Linked DNA regions of Homo sapiens. The protein of the gene in region 1 purifies or fractionates together with the protein of each later gene. This does not show direct contact. Each region holds a gene or a part of one and is shown on either strand. Other genes may lie near its edges.

Evidence for each region.
Region 2: the proteins of TRDN (region 1) and LMAN2L purify together in Homo sapiens (co-immunoprecipitation; 3 studies listed by BioGRID and IntAct, with this or other methods). This does not show direct contact.
Region 3: the proteins of TRDN (region 1) and VTI1B purify together in Homo sapiens (co-immunoprecipitation; 3 studies listed by BioGRID and IntAct, with this or other methods). This does not show direct contact.

Annotation. Positions count from the first base shown.
Region 1 is NC_000006.12:123,546,361-123,550,015, forward strand, and holds part of TRDN (triadin), read right to left. Parts: intron 2,253-3,655; coding exon 2,094-2,252; intron 1,013-2,093; coding exon 980-1,012; intron 1-979. UniProt on the Homo sapiens protein: Contributes to the regulation of lumenal Ca2+ release via the sarcoplasmic reticulum calcium release channels RYR1 and RYR2, a key step in triggering skeletal and heart muscle contraction.
Region 2 is NC_000002.12:96,733,452-96,737,106, forward strand, and holds part of LMAN2L (VIP36-like protein isoform 2 precursor), read right to left. Parts: intron 1,076-3,655; coding exon 958-1,075; intron 151-957; coding exon 68-150; intron 1-67. UniProt on the Homo sapiens protein: May be involved in the regulation of export from the endoplasmic reticulum of a subset of glycoproteins. May function as a regulator of ERGIC-53.
Region 3 is NC_000014.9:67,661,045-67,664,699, reverse strand, and holds part of VTI1B (vesicle transport through interaction with t-SNAREs homolog 1B), read left to right. Parts: intron 1-2,164; coding exon 2,165-2,223; intron 2,224-3,655. UniProt on the Homo sapiens protein: V-SNARE that mediates vesicle transport pathways through interactions with t-SNAREs on the target membrane. These interactions are proposed to mediate aspects of the specificity of vesicle trafficking and to promote fusion of the lipid bilayers.

The DNA.
Region 1 (3,655 bases):
TACACTAAGTGGATTTTACCCCAGATAGTGTGGGGTAGTCATCATTTTCTCAGGGAAGGCTGAAACTGTAAGTTTGGATCCCATTGTTTGAATCCACAGTAGGTATTAGGAGAGAGCAACAGAAGCCAGGGTTATCTTCCTGGGTAAACCCTCAACAGCCTGCCCATGTGTAGCAGTAACTAAAACACTGCAATTGTTTTAAGTCTGGCTTGAATGTTGGCTGTTTTCTCACAACAAATGTACCTCAAGATGGTACTACCTGCTCCCCAGTGCCCCTTCCAGATGCAGTTCCTACCCCTTCCTGTCAAAATCTCTGTCTTCTGAAATTCCTGCCCCATTGCTGTCCTCCTTTGTCCTAGGTTTATCGTTCTTATCATTCAGGTTGTGACCACTTCACTCAGTCACCTTATCTATTCCTGCAAGTAATTCCTCTACAGCACATCCAGGCACATCCAGGTAACTCCACTCCATGACAGTGACACATCACACATACCAACTGGATATGCCTTTGCCTCCTAGGCTGTTATGTCCCTCACCGTCTTGTTGTCCTGGCCCATAGTCATCACCTAACATGCAAAATAATGATGGCAAAAAAAATAAAAGGAAAAGAATAAGAATAAACATTTAAAATCAATAAATCTGACCATGGTGAGAATAAATCATGGGTGTCATTTTCTGGGCCATTTCTAAGGCTACAGAATTCTCCCCTCATTCCTCAAATTCCAGCTCATATTGGTCTGTGTATAAATGAATCCATACAAATCTACTGAATAAGGCATTTAAAAAATAATCAACAGAAAAGTAGTGAGATCACCTTCATTGGAAAAGAAATTGAGTATTTTTTTTCTGACTATAAATCTTGACCTAATTATTAAACAAAACCTTTATATTAAAATAAGTAAAATATATTTGAACCATGCTGAAAACCAATATTACCATAAGAGAAAAATAATTATTATCAAAGGTGAAAACAACTAACCTTTTTTTCTCAAGGGAGGCTCATCTATTTCTCCTAGACCAAGATTAAAAGAAAAACAAAGTTAGAAAATATTTTAGCATAGAATAATATGACATCATTATTTTCCCCTTTTGTTTATTTAAAAAAATCTATTAGTTTTAACAATCATAGTCTTTACATTACTTTGCTTCCCAAATTCCAGTTTTTAAGTATAAAGTTTGTTTATATACATTTATATAAGATTGTTTCATTTTTATGAATTCAATAAAATTGTGGCAGTGATCCAAATTATACATTATAGGTTATATATCATATTAATTTCAACTCTCTATTGTTCATGTTGAACTCTTACTGGGGCCAAAACAAATATAATTTCAGGAAAAGTTATAAAAATACTCTAATAATAAAAGCTTTCCTGGTAGTCAAGGCTGAATACATGATTTCTGATGACTAAGACTGACCCTAAAAAGTGTTATCTAATAGATGGAATCACAGTGCTTTGTTCTTTTCATACTCATTCAATGGCAGCTTTTATGTGGTTTGAGATGGCTATTTCCTTTTATTCATTAATATATATGAGAGAGCACATAGGTTAGTTGCATAATTGTTAGGACATTTAGAATGTGTCCTTCTATTCTACACCACCATTTGGTCCAATAAATTTACTCTTTTGATTGTACTTTTAGTAAGATTGCTTTCTGCTATTTGACTATAAATATGACATATGTGTATAAAACACTTATATGTATTTTTAGTTTTACTGTTTTTATTTTAATCTTCCTAGAGATAAACTTGAAAAATAACTATTTTTTCCAAAGAAGCATATAAATGTGAGTTTGTATTGTGGTTTTATAGCAGAGCATAATGAGACTCCCTTTGCTGTAATGCTACATTAATATTAACATTTAATTTTGACATCTTTGCCATAATGGTAGATAAGCTATAAGATGAAAATTAAATAAAGAACAATTTACTGTGTTTGGCAGCCTGTTGATATGCTTTTAGCAGTCAGAAGTGTATTCATTTTGGTTTAGCTTGACCCAAGTGCTCATTTGAATTTAAACTGAGGCAAGCCACTATAATACATATTTAATGTTGCTCCTAGCAGTTAGATATATCTCTATGTTCTTTGTACCTTTATCAGTATCTTCGTCACCATCATCATCTTCTTCATCTTCAGATGAGATGATGTCAGATAACAAAGAAAAGAAGCCATAGATCCAGTCCGTGGTTTCCTCCATAGCATCACGTACCAGTTTTAAAGGATCTGAGCCAATCTTGGCAATAGAGCTTGCTAAAAGTAATTAAAAAAAAAAAAAAAGAAAAAGTTTGTGATCATTTCCAAATAACTTAAGAAAAGCTGTTTTTACTGATTTGTTGTTTTGACAAAAAGAATATGTCAATTTCAACATTCTAAATATCTCCTGGCTACAATTTTTTGCGCAGAAATAGAAACTTCATCTTGCTATAATATGCATGCATGCCAAGAAAGAAAATGCCCTTGGGAAGTTTATAATCCAAATAAGAGTTAGCACTGGAAAAAAAATTAGGAATGAATTAAAATAATGTGTATTTATGTTACCCAGAGTGCAAATAAACCCTATGTTATGGATGTTCAGGAATGGAAGAAATAATTTCAGCACATATTGTATGGGACAGCATTATAGAAAAGATGACTCTGTAAGTTTTCAGACAAATAACAAGTTCTGCAAGTTGACTAAGGTAGTTGTGGCTAAATTAAGACTGATAGGCCCATTTATTCTAATTTGTGATACCACAGGAAGAATCTGGAATAGTCAAGTTAGTGATCATATCAAGCTCTAGTTGGAATAGGTTGGATTTATCTTAGTCATCCCTGTACATGAAATAAAAAAGTATTTGAACTGCTAGTAACTTCAATGGATAGAATCTATAAGTCTTCCCTTTTCTATGTCCTAGGAGATATAAAATGTTTGCTAAATGAAAGATTGAATCATAAAAAAATGCAAACAAATATATTAGGGATTTCCAAAATTTTATTCTTCCAATCATATGAAAACTGCTCTGAAGAGGCAAGCATAGCCTTTAGGATGTGATTACAGAGGTGATCTATCTAGAAATATGGTATAAATTGCATCTGATTTTTTATCAAGCTGTAATTAAATTTTAGAGCTGTGTTTTCCTTAATTTTAAAAACTATTTTAGCTTTTCAGAGATTTTTCTCTCTTTGATATATTTAAGAGATGAGAATTATATCAATGTATTATACTACCTAAAGGTTAAGTACATCTAATTAGGCTTTTACTGTGACTAACATAGTAAGTCATTGGAAGATTTGAGCAGAAAGATGAAGTGATTTGACTTCCTTTACTGTGTTGAAGTTTGAAAGGGTGCCAGGCTGGGAACAGGGAGATGAGTATGAAGCCAACTGAAATCATCCAAGAGAAAGATGATCATGATTTCTATCAGGGTGGTAACAGTGTGTGTGGTGAGATGCAATCAGATTCTGAATGTATTTCAATGACAGAATTAATAGTAGAAGCTTCCAGTGTGGCTGTGATGTGAGAGAAAGACAGAATTCCAGGATAACTTCTAAGTTTTTGGTGTGAGAAACTAGAATGAAGGAAGGAAATGCTCTGAGCTGGGGGAGGACTGGAGAGAAACAAGATTCTTGCTGGGTGTGGGTGGGGTTGGGAGTAGAAAAGTAGCTGAGTTTTA
Region 2 (3,655 bases), on another chromosome or scaffold:
CAACATTCCTGAGGCAAAGAACTGTGATGTCAGTGTAGCTGACCTAGGCTCTGACACTTGCCATTACCTCTTGCTGCTTCTCCTCATTGGGGTAGGTGTCTACAAATACTCCCAGCCCCACAAATTTGTCCATGTTTCCAAACACAGGCCCTAGAGAGAGAGAACAGATGATGAACAATGAAATAAAGCTAAGAGTTGATAAAGGAATAATATATCACTATGATGGAGGAAAAAGTAAAATTCAAATGACTCCCAAGCCTCTCTCAAGATGAGAAAACACATGTTTAAAAGTACCCAGCAAAGTGCATGGCCTGTAACAAGTGCCCAGTAAATATCTGTAATTGTTTGTTGTTGGAGGCAAGGGAAAGAGAGAAGGCCACTGCAACCTTATTTAGCACTCAGGCAGCTTCCTGATCCAAACTGGTTGCTAAGGTGCCCCTACAGAATTCTGCTTTACAAACAATTGGTAAAGACTATGCCCCCAAGAGAGAACTGAATTCCCTAGTTCTCCTTCTTGTTGCAAAAGAGATCAGGTCAAATCAGGTTGAGCCTGCCATCTACATGGAGCAATAATAGCTCTAACACAAGGAAAATAGATAACTCTTCTCTTGACTCAGCAGTGCTGAGATCATTCACTGTAAATGTTCAGAAGAAATCAGCTCACCCAATCGTCAGCGTTCAGGAGAGCCAGTGCTTTCATCCAGCCAACAGGCCAGGTAGTTTCACAAGGAAACTCAGAAAGAAGTAACAAGCAAGCAACTGCCTCAGGATGAGTCAAATTCAGCTGCTTATGAGGACTCAGACCCGTTCTAGAGACTAGAAGGGCCAGTGTTCATCCACATACATTAAGGGAGAGGGAAAACAGCTGGCACTGTGGGGAAGGAACCTTTTCAAAAAGAGGGCACATGAAAAATCAGGCTGTCACACCCACACAAGAGTAACACAGGCTCCCAATACCTGGCTGCATCCGATCCTTTGTGTACCAGATTGCCAAGCCATCCCCATGCAGATTCTTCTTTCCTTGTCCATGGATTTTGAAGTGCACCTGCAACTCCCAGTCTCTCAGGAAACATGGCTAAAGTGAGAAAGACATTAGAATCAATGAGGAGCATGAAATGCAAAACCCCTCAAGCCCACATCAGCAATCAACAGACTTGGAAAACACAAATGCAGGTAACACTAGACTAAGGGTTAAAACTTAAATCTAAGACTTGCTATGTGTTCATGTCATAAAATTAAACGGATTGAACCATTCAACTGTTTAGAGATTTAATATGAAAATGAATAAACCTCCCGATTATCTTCAACATTTCCCAACAGAAACAGGACAGAACTCCAAAGTTGGAAAAGACAAGAGTGTACCAAACTCCACTCCTGTGATCCTACACCCACCCAGCAAAGTAGCTCGGCTTTTAGAGTACAGATGGCTGAATTCATACTCATTTACAACTCAAGATCACCCCTCAGACAGAAAGACTCTGAAAAGCTGGATTTAAAGAAAGGTCAAAGCCTAATTTATTACAGTAGAAAAAGAAAAGCTAAGCTGTTATGCAAACGTTTCCAGGAATAATTAGCAGATACTACAAACAACTCTAATTAGCTAGACCTGGCCCTCTGCCAAGCTGAGGGGTAAGCCAGAATTCTCACAAGAAGAGCAAGTTACAGTCCCCAAACCCTCCCGTCCATGGCCAAGAAGCTTAAATGCACTTGAAGATGGATGCAAGTGGATGGTTAAGTGTTTTAAATAGTTGAACGGTTTCAAGAAAAAACCAGAGTGGGTAGTTGATTTAGGGAAGCTTCTGGTTAAAAGTCTACTGTGAAGAAAGAAGTGAAGGAAGAACAGACAGACCAGCTGGGTTCAGCCAAAGGCTCTCCAAATAGACTGTTCTGGGCAACTATTGCTAGATCATTTTCAGTTTTCATTCTTTATTTCTGGGATATTTTCCAACAGTGTTCATATTAGAAGTACACAGTCAAAATGAAAGGGGATTGGGTACTCCTGCATTGAGCAAGGGGCCTGAAATCTCCTACTCTATTGAGCCAGTCTCTGTCTTGTCACTCTGGATTCTTATCTCTCTGCTGTTTCATTACGATTTCAGAGAAACGGCCCAGCGCGGTGGCTCACGCCTGTAATCCCAGCACTTTGGGAGGCTGAGGTGGGCAGATCACAAGGTCAGGAGATCGAGACCATCCTGGCTAACACGGTGAAACCCCGTCTCTACTAAAAAATACAAAAAATTAGCCGGTGTGGTGGTGGGCGCCTGGAGTCCTAGCTACTCAGGAGGCTGAGGCAGGAGAATGGCGTGAACCCAGGAGGCAGAGCTTGCAGTGAGCTGAGATCATGCCACTACACTCCAGCCTGGGCGACAGAGCGAGACTCCATCTCAAAAAAAAAAAAAAAGATTTCAGAGAAAGGCCAGGCACAGTAGTTCACGCCAGTAATCAAAGCATTTTGAGAGGCTTTGGTGGAGGATCATTTGAGCCCAGGAGGTCCAGGCTGCAGTGAGCTGTGATAGTGCCACTGCACTCCAGCCTAGGCGACAGAGTGATGAGACCCTGTTTCAAAAAAATAGCTTTCAGAGAAAGAGTGAAATTCAGTGGGGCAGGAAGCTGCCAGGAGGTAGGTATTATGCCCCTGGGAAGAGGGCAGAGTCACAGAAGTTCCCAGTGAGCCAAGAGGTGTCTGTCACTGATTCCTGGCCTCCTACAGCACAATGCTATACTGTTTTGCTCAGGACCATGTCTAATTGTGGTTCTGAAATTCTGCCACACACTGGATTCACCTACGGAGTTTTAAAAAATCCCAATGGCCAAGCTGCACCCTATTCCAATTAGATCAGAATCTCTGGGGATGAGACCCAGGCATTGATTCCAATGGATAGCCAAATTTGAGAACCACTGCTGAAACAAATGCATCCTATTCAAATAACTCAGAAACAAGCCCATAGTCATGGTGATAGCCAGATAACAGCGAATACAGGTATCAGAAGTCGAAAAAGGGAAGAACTAGAGGCTATACTAGAACTGCTGCTACAAGTTATGTAGAGACAGACAGCCAGCAAGACAGCAGCAGAGTATCAAGCCTTGAACATAATCATCCGGTAACCCACAAGAGCCCCATCAACAAACCTGTAGAAGTGTAATAACATAACACATATTTCTATAACCATTTTAACTTGCCACAGTCTTTTCATGTCTATTGTCCTATTTTATTCTCACGACAACCCCAGTGGGCAAGTAAAACAGGTATTCTGAAGCTCATTTATCAGATAGAGAAACAGAACTAAGAAGTTAAATAATCTGCCTAGGGCTCACAGGAGGACTGTGACAGAGCTGGACCGAGAATCCCAGTCTTTCAACTGTCCTTTATCTCTGCTACGAAAACACAATGCTCTGTACTCTGTCCAAAAATGAGCTCGGCACTATGATCTAGGTTAAGGGGCCAGTTTGTGCAGATAGCTAATGTAGAAATTTCTCTTGCCCTCCTGAACAGGGAAAAGAAATCGTTCTCTTTTCTGAGATTCGCTTATCTACAACTAATGAGAAAAGCCACGTAAAAAAGTAAGTTCTTAGTTTAAGAGAATTCCAGAGAAAGTATCAAAGGATGCCAGAGTCATGCCCAAAAGTAAACTGGTCGTAAAAGATTTAGAAAGCC
Region 3 (3,655 bases), on another chromosome or scaffold:
TGGCAAAACCCTGTCTTTATTAAAAATGTAAAAAAATTAGCCGGGCATGGTGGTGGGTGCCTGTAACCCCAGCTGCTCGGGAGGCTGAGGCAAGAGAATCGCTTGAACCTGGGAGGTGGAGGTTGCAGTGAACCGAGACCGAGCCACTGCACTCCAGCCTGGGAGACAGAGCAAGACTCTGTCTCAAGAAAAAAAAAAAAATTGCTCTTTAGTTGGTGGAAGTGCTGCTGGCTTGTGTTTAGGAGTCACATTGAAAAATACATAGCTTTAAAAGGCCATATCCCCATACGTGCAACAGCATAGATGAACCTTGACTTTGTGCTAAGTGAAATAAGCTAAACACAAAGGACAAATATTGTATGATTCCACTTAATGGTGTACCTGGAGTAGTGAAATTCATAGAATGGGGAGGTATTTGATGGGTACGGAATTTCAGTTTGAGAGGATAAACAAGTTCTGGAGAACAGTTAGTGGTGATGGCTCCACAACGGTGTGAATGTACCTAGCCACTAAGCTATACCCTCACAAATGGTCAAAATGGTAAATTTTATATTACATGTATTTTGCCAGCCTAGGTGACCAGTGAGACTCTGTCTTGAAACAAACAAACAAACATTGTAAATGATGGTAACTTTATGGTGATAAGTAGATTATGTGTAGATTTCCAGGGAGAACAGTCATTTGGATGTATAAATTTTTTTAAAAAATCAAGCTCCTCTTAAAAGGAGCTAATTTTTGCTTGTTAGATATAAGGGAATGACCTACTTCCTCATTTTGTAGTCAATGAAGGAGAATGTGAGGTCCCAAAGAAATGAAGGAAATTATCTAAGTTTACATGCTGAGGCAGGCCCGAACCTGGCACCAGAACCTCACCCCGCTGACTAACCAGAAAAGGTGCTTGTATGCCTTTCCCCCATACAAATGTTTACCAGGTGACAGCATTCTGGTACCACCTTCATAATTTTTGCCATCCGCAAGTATCATTATTACTGTCACTTACATTTTATTTATTTATTTATTTATTTTGAAATGGAGTCTCCCTCTGTCGCCCAGGCTGGAGTGCAGTGGCACAATCTTGGCTCACTGCAAGCTCCGCCTCCTGGGTTCACACCATTCTCCTGCCTCAGCCTCCTGAGTAGCTGGGAATACAGGCGCCCACCACCACACCAGGCTAATTTTTTGTATTTTTTAGTAGAGATGGGGTTTCACCGTGTTAGGCAGGATGGTCTCGATCTCCTGACCTCATGATCCGCCCGCCTCGGCCTCCCAAATTGCTGGGATTACAGGCGTGAGTCACCGTGCCCAGCCTTGTCACTTACATTTTCTTTATGTCAACTTATTTCATGTAAAATACATTTATTTAAAACAATGTTATTTAAAAATGAAACTTGCTATCATATTTTAGATGGAAAACCTGTAGTATAAACTATCAGAAAATACAATTAAGACAATACTGTTTTAGTTAGATGTTTGTTTTGAAGCTGAAGCCTGTTCTATTTTTGTTCAAAGGGGAGATTAGTAATTTTTAGGTATTAAAGATACACTCAACCAAAGGGACAGAATGGGAAAGGCTGAAAGGGGAATGAATAACGTTCTCATCGTTCAAGTCATTGCCGGTGCCACACCCAGAGAAAAACAAGCACCACACCAGACAGCCTCTCAGCAAGCCGAGTAGGTGGAATTTTTATTTTGCAGAAAAGTAGTGTACGAGTTAACATAGAAGTGGTTCACTGTGGGAGTGGTGAGGGGTTTCAGAGAGTCACTATTGGTAAACATTCTTTTTTTTTTTTTTTTTTTGAGACAGAGTCTTGCTCTATTGCCCAGGCTGGAGTGCAATGGCGCAATCTCGGCTCATTGCCACTTCCACCTCCTGGGTTCAAGCATTTCTCTACCTCTGCCTCCCAAGTAGCTGAGATTACAGGTGCCTGCCACCACGCCCGGCTAATTTTTGTATCGTTAGTAGAGATGGGGTTTCACCAGGTTGGCCAGGGTGGTCTTGAACTCCTGACCTTGTGATCCACCTGCCTTGGCCTCCCAAAGTGCTGGGATTACAGGCATGAGCCACCAGGCCCTGCCATAGGAAGCTTATTCGAAGCAGAGGGAATGGCCTTTACAAATGTGTGGAAACAGTAATAAGCATTTGAAACTTATCTATCTTTTCTAGAAGAAAAGAAGAAATTGATCAGGGATTTTGATGAAAAGCAACAGGAAGCAAATGAAACGGTGAGAACAAGGAACAAATTTTGTTTCTTCTACCTGGTGTTGGTCTTTTCCAGAAGTAATGCTATGAGCTGATCACAAATTAACTGTTCCTGTCCATTGATCTTGATTTTGACTATTTCTTACTAAATGAAGCCAGTTGATGGGGATGGTTGTTGAGGGGGTTTGGCAAACAAATGGGTGAAGCCTGAAGATGCTCCTGAAATGTGACTCTTTGGTAATATATTGCTGATGTGAGTAGTAAGGGCATTCTCATACTTTTACCCAAGCAGTCTTTTAAAATCTGTTGTTTTTTTTTTTGTTGTTGTTGTTGTTGTTTGTTTTGAGACAGAGTCTCGCTCTGTTGCCCAAGCTGGAGTGCAGTGGCACAGTCTCGGCTCACTGCAAGCTCCACCTCCCGGGTTCACACCATTCTCCTGCCTCAGCCTCCCAAGTAGCTGGGAATACAGGTGGGCGCCACCACACCTGGCTGTTTTTTTGTATTTTCAGTAGAGATGGGGTTTCACCGTGTTAGCCAGGATGGTCTCGATCTCCTGACCTCATGATCTGCCCGCCTCGGCCTCCCAAAGTACAGGGATTACAAGGCATGAGCCACCGTGCCTGGCCTAAAATCTGTTTTTAAGAGCTGGCCATTAAGATAGGTTACTGGTCAGTGCGGTGGCTCACGCTTGCAATCCCAACACTTTGAGATGCCAAGGTGGGAGGATCACTTGAGGCCAGAAGTTCAAGACCAGCCTGGGCGACATAGGGAGACCCCCCATCTCTACCAAACAAAAAAAAATTACCGAGGTTTGGTGGTGCATGCCTCTGGACCCAGCTACTCAGGAGGCTGAGGTGGGAGATCACTTCAGCCTGGGAGGTCAAGCATGTGGTTAGCCACAGTTGCACCACTGCACTCCAGTCTGGGTGACAGAGTGAGACCTGCCTCAAAAAAAAAAAAAAAAAAAAAAGGTTACTGTTCTTTGTTAAACCTACTGTCACAGAAAATGTAGTTTAGAGGTAATTCTAACCATGTCCCTTTCTGTCTTAAGAGACAACATAGGAGCTGGAGTTGGTACCTCAGGCAAGACATGCATGAGTCTCAGTTGGTACCCAAAGTTTGTCAGAAGTTGGTTCCGTTTACTGAACAGTTTAACAACTGCTTCTCTTCACCTGTGGCTTTTCTTTAAAAAAAAAAAACTTTTTTTTTTTTTTTTTTTTTGCTCTAGCCCTATAGAAGCAAGAGTCCTTTGACTCCATCTCATCATACTCTAGCTTCAGCAAACTCATTAAGATTGGGGCCAAAATTCTGGTCGCTGCTAGTACTCCGCAGAAATAGTTGGCCCTGTATTTGCTACCCGAGAGCAGATGGAGAAAAAATTCTCTTTTGGCCAGCGAACTTCCTTCTTGCTTGTTGAAGATCAGTGTTTCAATTTCCCACTTATCCCAATGAAGT